Regions from separate parts of the Homo sapiens genome. Here all the other regions are linked to region 1. Evidence: fine-mapped expression QTL. A gene starts in region 1. Each other region holds a variant in brackets. All regions are shown on one strand. Distances are between the middles of the regions.

Evidence for each region. PIP is the estimated chance that this variant, and not a neighbour inherited with it, causes the effect.
Region 2: its variant is fine-mapped to the expression of SPSB2 in testis (GTEx, PIP 0.98).
Region 3: its variant is fine-mapped to the expression of SPSB2 in thyroid (GTEx, PIP above 0.99).

Annotation. Positions count from the first base shown.
Region 1 is chr12:6,872,123-6,874,879 of GRCh38, forward strand. It overlaps SPSB2 (splA/ryanodine receptor domain and SOCS box containing 2), which reads right to left and starts at 1,181. Exons shown (of 3, transcript NM_032641.4): 1 at 1,124-1,181; 2 at 116-875. The coding sequence starts at 779. RefSeq lists an enhancer at 511-750 and a silencer at 1,141-1,590.
Region 2 is chr12:7,810,148-7,812,904 of GRCh38, forward strand. SLC2A14 (solute carrier family 2 member 14) reads right to left here. Exons shown (of 11, transcript NM_001286234.2): 11 at 2,367-2,757. Among named protein-coding and RNA genes, the nearest start is that of NANOG, 22 kb to the left of the region's middle. The variant C/T (reference allele first, on the strand shown) is at 1,398.
Region 3 is chr12:6,782,394-6,785,150 of GRCh38, forward strand. It overlaps the pseudogene RN7SL380P. Among named protein-coding and RNA genes, the nearest start is that of CD4, 5.8 kb to the right of the region's middle. The variant G/A (reference allele first, on the strand shown) is at 1,489.

The sequences.
Region 1 (2,757 bases):
GGTTGAGGCAGGCTGGATGAAGGTCCATCCCCTCTGCTCTTGTCAGAAGAGTTTCCATCCCAAACCACTGCCACCAGGGACAGAAAGTTCTCCCCACGTCTGCCCCAGGCCTCACCTCTCCTTTCGCCCAGGTAGCGGATGCGGACCTGGCACTGGCCCCAGACAGCGCTTACTGCCGGATAGAGGGTCCTGCCCTTCAGTCCGCGGAATGCTGGCCCCAGGTAGGTGCCCCCAATAGCGTAGCCCAGAGTTCCCTCCTCCATGTCCAGAACCACCAGCAGTCTCTCTGGCACCTCCAGCTGCTCACCCTGAGTTCCCGCTGGATACTGGGGGGCTCCGGGCCCCTTGCTCTGATGGTACAGCTTCCCCCGCCCGATGTCCCAGCCCCACGACTCGCTGTTGCTGCCCAGCAGCGCCGCGTAGTGGTCAGTCTGCAGCGGGGCGAGGGCCGTGGCCACGCCCACCACGGCATGCGTGCCCCTCTGCTCTAGGGGCCAGCTGATCTCCCAGGCGTGCAGGCCCCTTGAATAGCCCCTCTTACCCCGGGCCCCATCAGTGCTCTGGGCCACGGGCCGCCGCTCAAAGTACAACCCTCCTTCCTTGACCTCGATGTTCTCTGAACAGTCTTTGGGGTTCCAACCGTGGCGCCGCTGGGCCCCCAGGTCAGGAGGGGGTGCAGACAGCAGCTCTTCCAAGCCCTCGGGACAGGAGAGGTCAGGGTACAGGGCCTGTGGCGTGGGGGTGCTGCTGCTGCCCCCTGCCAGAGCTGTCTGGCCCATGGAGGTGAGGAGCTAGAGGACTCCCCGAAAGAGGCTTGCTGGGGCGTCTTTCTCTTCTGAAAGTTGAGCTCCAGTTTGGATTGACCTGGAAGGGAGCTGGGAGAAAAGGGGCGTGAAGAGCAGAATCCTGGCGGGGGCTCGTCACCCAGGTACCCCATCCTTTCACCCAAGTTTGCCAACGGGCCCGCTCCTCCCTCCTCGCTGCCCCAAAGCTCCTGGGCCCTTCATCTGCCCTCGCCCCATCTGATCCAGGTCGCCAGAGACTCTCGCGAGTTCGCCCCATTTGGGCCTCAGCATGGACCATCCCCCTTACTCGCCCGGAGCCCTCGCCGCTGCCCCCGAACCTCGGTTGACTTCCCAGCCCTGGAGGTCGCCGGGCCTCTGAAGGAGCCGGGCGGAAAGAAGCCGAGGCGCGCAGGGCGCAGACCGCCGGCCGCTTCCGCCCCCAGCTCCTCCCTTGGGCCGAGCCCGTCCCGCGGCCCCGCCCCTCCAGGGCCCTCTGGGGCTTAACCCTCTCATCGCCGCCCACGGCCGTGCAGCTCCGAGGCCACGCCCCTGTGGGGCCCCGCCCCCTCCTGGGCAGTTACCGCTCTATACCGGCAGCAGCCGCGGAGAGCATGCCCCGCCCCCGTGGAGCCCACCCCGGGCGGTTAACCTCGGGTCTCAGTCCCGGGCTGTGACCCTCCCCGAGGCCCCGCCCCCACGGCGAAGGCCCGGGGCAGTTAACCCTTCTCTTGCTGCGGCAGAGTCCGCACCCGGGCAGGCCCATCTCAGAATTAACGCTTTGATGGCATCACCGCGTCGGGAATCCCTGGGGATGGTGTTCTCCACCGTCAAGACCTTTGAGCCGCCTGAGCGACTAACTCCTGCGCCCCTGAGGGTAAGGAGCATGGGGTCAAGGAGGGGCTTCATTGTGCCGAATCCCATTTCTACTTCCCTGTGATTCTGGGTCACTGTTTCTGGGCTGGTCCCTTTCTGCCCCGGGTTGTGAGTCAGCCTGTGCCACCTCTGAGGCTGTGAAATCTGCTTCAGGCTCTAGGCTGTACGCATCATAGTTCTCCCTGCTGGTCCAGTCTTCATACTGGATGCCAATCCATTACTGAGCCGTTGATCTCATTTGGTAGAGTGTCCTGATTAAGACTTCGAGTTTGAGTGAAGCTATGCCACTAGTTAACTGCGCGATCTTGGGGAAGTTGCCCGATTTCTCTTTTTTTTTTTTTTGAGACAGGGTCTTGCTGTCACCAAGGCTAGAGTGCAGTGGCGCCATCACAGCCCACTGCAGCCTTGACCTCCTGGGCTCAAGTGATCCTCCTACCTCAGCCTCCCAAGTAGCTGGGACTACAGGCATGTGCTACCACACCCAGCTAATTTTTAAAAAAATATTTTTATTTTTATTTTTATTTTTTTCGAGACAGAGTCTTGCTCTTGTTGCCCAGGCTGGAGTGCAGCGGCACGATCTCGGCTCTCTGTAACCTCCATCTCCCAGGTTCAGGGGATTCTCCTGCCTCAGCCTCCTGAGTAGCTGGGATTACAGGCACCTGCCACCACGCCTAGCTATTTTTTGTATTTTTAGTAGACACAGGGTTTTGCCATGTTGGCCAGGCTGGTCTAGAACTCCTGACCTTGTGATCTGCCTGCCTTAGCCTCCCAAAGTGCTGAGATTACAGGTGTGAGCCACCACGTCCGGCCAAAAAAAAATTTTTTTTAGAGACAGGGTCTCCCAAAGTGCTGGGATTTCAGGCATGAGCCACTACGCCCAGCCCCAGATTTCTGTAGTTTTCTGTTATGTAAAATAGGAGCAATGATGGTAGTTACCTCACAGGGTTGTTGTGCAGTTGAAATAATCCAGGTAAAGCATGTAGCACAGAGCTGGGTACATAGTAGTCACTCACCAAGCATAGCTGTCAATGTGCTTAATGAGTGCCGACACTATAAGGAGGCAATATAATATAATGGCAAACATGCCAGCTGTGGGACC
Region 2 (2,757 bases), 940 kb after region 1:
ACTGCCCCTGGCCTGACTGTAGGATTTATCAGGCTTTACCCTGTCTAAGTTTATGGGTTTCTGCTCCTACCAGGAAGGTCCTACTCTTTCCCTGCTTTTCTCAGTGTTCCTACCTTTCAATAATAAAAAAACAATTGGCCGGGCGCGGTGGCTCACGCCTGTAATCCCAGCACTTTGGGAGGCCGAGGTGGGCGGATCAGTTGAGCTCAGGTGTTCAAGACCAGCCTGGCCAACATGGTGAAACCCCGTCTCTACAATACTACAAAAATAGCCAGGCATGACAGTGTGTGCCTGTACTCCCAGCTACTGGGGAGGCTGAGGCGGGAGAATTACTTGATCCCTGAAGACTAAGGTTGCAGTGAGCCGAGATCACACCATTGCACTGCAGCCTGGGCAACTGAGAAAGACTCCATCTCAAATAAATAAATAGTTAATTAATTAAAAAAACAATTGTAATGTGAAAGGCTTGGTCGCTCGAATCTGAAGTCCAAGCTAGTCAGGAGGCTGAAGCCGGACAGTTGCTTGAGCCCAGGAGAATAGCCCGGGCAATACAGTGATATCCTGTTCCCCTCCTCCGATAAAAAACAATTATAATCCTTGGGAAGACAAATTTTAGTATAATATACTTTTTTTGTTTTTTGAGATAGGGACTCTGTCACTCAGGCTGGAGTGCAGTGGTGCGATCTTGGCTCATTGCAGACTCAATCGCCTGGACTCAGGTGATTCTCCCACCTCAACCTCCCAAGTAGCTGGGACTACAGGCATGTGCCACCATGCCCGGCTTGTTTTCTTTTGTTTTTTGAGATGGACTCTCCCTCTGTCGCCCAGGCTGGAGTGCAGTGGCACGATCTCGGCTCACTGCAAGCTCCGCCTCCCGGGTTCACTCCATTCTCCTGCCTCAGCCTCCTGAGTAGCTGGGACTACAGGCGCCCGCCGCATGCCCCACTAATTTTTTTTTTGTATTTTTAGTAGAGACGGGGTTTCACCGTGTTAGCCAGGATGGTCTCGATCTCCTGACCTTGTGATCCGCCCGCCTCAGCCTCCCAAATTGCTGGGATTACAGGTGTGAGCCACTGCGCCCGGCCGAAGGATTTTAAGTAGGATAGTGATATACAGTCCGACTTCTGTATCTGCAGATGCAAAGAACTACAGATGGAAAATATTTGGGAAAAAAGACAATACAACTATAAAAAACAATACAGTTTAACAATTATTTACATTGTATTAGGTATTAAAAGTAATCTAGAGATGATTTAAAGTGCATGAGATGATGTGCATAGATTATTTGCATTTAAATCATCACAATAATAATTATATGCATTTTTTTTTGAGACCAAGTCTTGCTCTGTCACCAGGCTGGAGTGCAGTGGCGTGATCTCAGCTCACTGCAAACTCCG[C/T]CTCCCAGGTTCAAAGGATTCTCCTGCCTCAGCCTCCTGAGTAACTGGGACTACAGGTGCATGCCACCACACCCAGCTAAGTTTTGTATTTTTAGTAGAGATGGGGTTTCACCATGTTGGCCAAGATGGTCTGGATCTCTTGACCTCGTGATCTGCCCGTCTTGGCCTCGCAAAGTTCTGGGATTACAGGCATAAGCCACTGCACCCAGACTATATGCATTTTATATAAGGGACTTGAGTATCCCTGAATTTTGTTATCTAAGAAGGGGTCTGGGAACCAGTCCCCTGGGGATGGCAAGGGACTGCTGTATGTCACATGGATGCCCTGACAGCAGTGTGGGATGAATTGTAGAGAGCAAAGACTGGAGGAGGAAGGAAGTGGAAAGGAACACGAGAAAAACAGAAAAAAAAAAAAACTAGTTCTCACTGGGGAAAGAAAGCAACATAATTCATCAAGTATGAAAAGCAAGGCACGAAGGCTTTTTCACTTAATCTGCATAATAAACACATATTGCTATTCTCTTTTTTTTTTTGAGACAAAGTCTCACTCTCGTCCCCCAGGCTGGAGTGCAATGGCGCAATCTTGGCTCACTGCAACCTCTGCCTCCTGGGTTCAAGCGATTCTCCTGCCTCAGCCTCCCAAGTAGCTGGGATTATAGGCACCTGCCACCACGCCAGGCTAATTTTTGTATTTTTAGTACAGACAGGGTTTCACCATATTGGCCAGGTGGTCCCAAACTCCCGATCTCAGGTGATCCGCCCTCCTTTGCCTCCCAAAGTGCTGGGATTACAGACATGAGCCACCGGGCCCGGCCAAATATTGCTATTCTCTTATGTATGAGACTCTAAGAACAGAGTCTCATACAAGTCTCAAGGTCACAACAGGTACTGAGTAGCCAACTCAGGATTTAAAGCTGATTTTGTTGTTACAGGAACGGCAAAAAATAAATAAATAATGTGCTTGTGATGTCATGTACATTCAGAATTTTTATTTTAAAACAAAGAATCAAACAAACAATAATGGAAAATCCATATGGAAATATTCACAATCTTCTCAGTGAGAAATAGGAAAACAACTTCCCTGCCTTACTGCCAAACTGAGGAGCCAGAAGTTGACGTGAAGTTGGAAGGCCACCTTTCCAGCTAAACCCCACTCCATAGCTACGTGCATTTTTATTCAAAGGCTCCAGGAGCAGAGGGAACAGTGAGAACTGAGAACCAAAATACTGTCACTGGCAAGGGTTTGGCTAAAGGGTCTGAGATGTGTAAGCACCAAGAAGGGAAAGGGAGACTGAGCAACATATGAAAAAGGGGCTGTAGGAACAAACACAGAGAAAATAAGTCAACAATAACATACTTC
Region 3 (2,757 bases), 90 kb before region 1:
AAAAGACAAAAGCTACCACATCTTTATTTCAAGATTAGATTTGATCTTGAAAGCAACGTGCCATAATTTCTGCCCTATTCTATTGATCACAGAGACCAACCTGGTGCAAGCAGGAGGGGGCAATGCAAGGGTGTGAACTGAGGGAGACAGGAGTCACTGGGGGCCATCTTGCAGCCTGGCTGTCAGAGTGGGGAGCAGTGCCTGAAACAGAGATAGGCCAAGAGACGGGAAGGGACGTCTCTGAGCATCTCCATCCCCAGCCCTCTTCTCTTGTCCACTCTCCAGAAGTTCTGGAAGCCAAGTGAGGTCCAGGGCCTTGGCAAGTCGAGTGTGTGAGGTAGGAGGCCATACTGTGCACATTCAGCCTTGGAGTCGGGTTTGCCAGCGGTTCCCCTACCCCTGACGTGGTCTTCTCAGCTCCATAGTGCAGAGGAGGAGCCTCTGCAGGCCCAGAAATTTCCCTGCCCACCTCCCCTACCAGGTAGAGATGTTAGGGTTCAGGCCTGAGCCCCTGCTGCTATCCCTCCTTCAAAGGAGGAGATCAAGGAGCTTAGGGTCCCCCGCACAGGCCCACCCCAGGGTGGGGTTCTTCCTTTGAAGGGAATTGCTTTGGGGTGGGGTCGGTTCTATCTGCTCCACTCTGTGGCTGACAGTTTCTCCAAGGGGCTGCAGGTGTCAGCTGTCTGAGCCCGGGCTGAGCTCTGAAACGTGCCTACTCAAACTTCCCGTGGGGTAGGGGAGGCCCAGAACCACCCTCTGAGAGTGGCAAAAAGTGGTCCTGGAGCCAGGGGAAATGTGGATGGGGTAGAGATGGCATCGATGCTCCTAGACTTTGCTTCCCAGAGAACAGCCCCAAAGACCCCTCCCCTGCTCCCCATCCTCAAACCCTGCCCCCAGCCCCCTTTGCAGAGGGCGTCAGTGCTGCCAAAGATACTTCTGGTAAGGAGGCCACCGCAGAGTTGCACCTGGGGCTTTCAACTTTCCTGCAACCCTGGCTGCCCTAGGCCTCTCAGATCATCCAGTCTCCAGCACTCTGTCTGTAGCCTCTGACACCGGCTTCTCTCTCTTCCCCATCACTCCTTCCCCTGGCTTGGCCTCCTCCCGTTCTACAGCCTAGAGAGGCAGGATACATGCAGCAAAAATAGCCTCTGGAACTCCCCCTGTTCCATGCTTTCAGACATGTGATGGGGGCAGACAGCTTGACTTCCATTTCTTCTTCTGTAAAGTAAGGATAGTAACAGCAACACCTACCAAAAAGGTCTGGCATGTACAAATGAATGTGAAAGTGCTTGGAAAATGGAAAACCACTCTAGAGATGTGAGGACCATGGCACTGCTGAGCCTCAGAAGCTCCAGGTGAGGCAGTGGGCCTCATACCTCCCTCCACTGCTAAGGGAGAAGACTTCTCTTAGCTGTCATCCTGGCCTTTCTTCTTCTTTTTTTATTTTTTATTTTTTTTTTAGAGGTGGGTTCTCGTTATGTTGCCCAG[G/A]CTGGTGCGCAGTGGCTATTTACAGGCCCGATCCCACTGCTGATTAGCATGGGTAGCATGGAAATTGTGACCCATTGTGTGTCCGGCCTGGGCTGGCTCACCCCTCCTCAGGCAATCTGGTGGTTCCCCACTCCCGGGAGGTCACCACGCTGAAGCTGAACTCAGTGCAGACACCTGATCTGCATAGTGCACTACAGCCCAGAACTCCTGGGCTCAAGGCATCCTCTTGCTTCAGCCTCCTGAGTAGCTGAGACTACAGGCACTCGGCACCACGCCCCGCCTGGACCTTCTTTTTTTGGTTTGTTTGTTTTTGTTTTTGTTTTTGTATTTTTAGTAGAGATGGGGTTTCACCGTGTTAGCCGGGATGGTCTGGATCTCCTGACATCACAATCCGCCCGCCTCGGCCTCCCAAAGTGCTGGGATTACAGGCACGAGCCACCATGCCTGGTCCTGGACCTTCTTAATGCAGAGGAGAGGCAGTGCAATGAGGGGGACCACCCAGAAACTGGGGTCCAAGCGGGTGAATTCAAATCCCGGTTCCACCAGCTGTGGTTACTAGCTCTGAGACCTTTGACAACTGAAACTCTTCGGCTAGGCACAGTGTGACTCATGCCTGTAATCCCAGCACTTTGGGAGGCTGAGGTGGGTGGATTGCTTGAACCTAGGAGTTTGAGATCAGCCTGGGAAGCATAGCAAAACCCCATCTCTAGGGGAAAAAAAAATTTAGCTGGGTACAGTGGCACATGCCTGTAGTTCCAGCTACTTGAGAGGCTAAGGCGGGAGGATAGATTGAGCCCTGGAGGTTGAGGCTGCAGTGAGCTGTGACCGTGCCACTGCACTGCAGCCTGGGTGACAGAACGAGACCTTGTCTAAGAAAACAAAAAACTCTTCAAGCCTCAGTTTCCTCATCTGTATGGCCTGGACAATAATACCTATGTCTTATCACTCTCATGAGGATTAAATAAAAGATACAACCACATAAAGCACACAACAATGCCAAATGTTTACTATAAACTCACCCTCTCTCTTCCTTTTTTCTTTTCCTGTTTGGAAACCCCAGAGAGAGAGCCAGGTTCTCAGGACCGTTGACTTCCAGGCCACAGACTCACAGAGCTGCAAGTTCTCACACCGTCCATCGGGTCTGGAATCTGCAAACCGGTGGGCCCAAAGCTAGAGCCAGCCCTTGGAATGCTCTGTTTGCTCTACCCAGTGTCACGACAAGTTGAAAAAATTTGTTACCAATATTAAAATCAGGAGGTATTACATAAA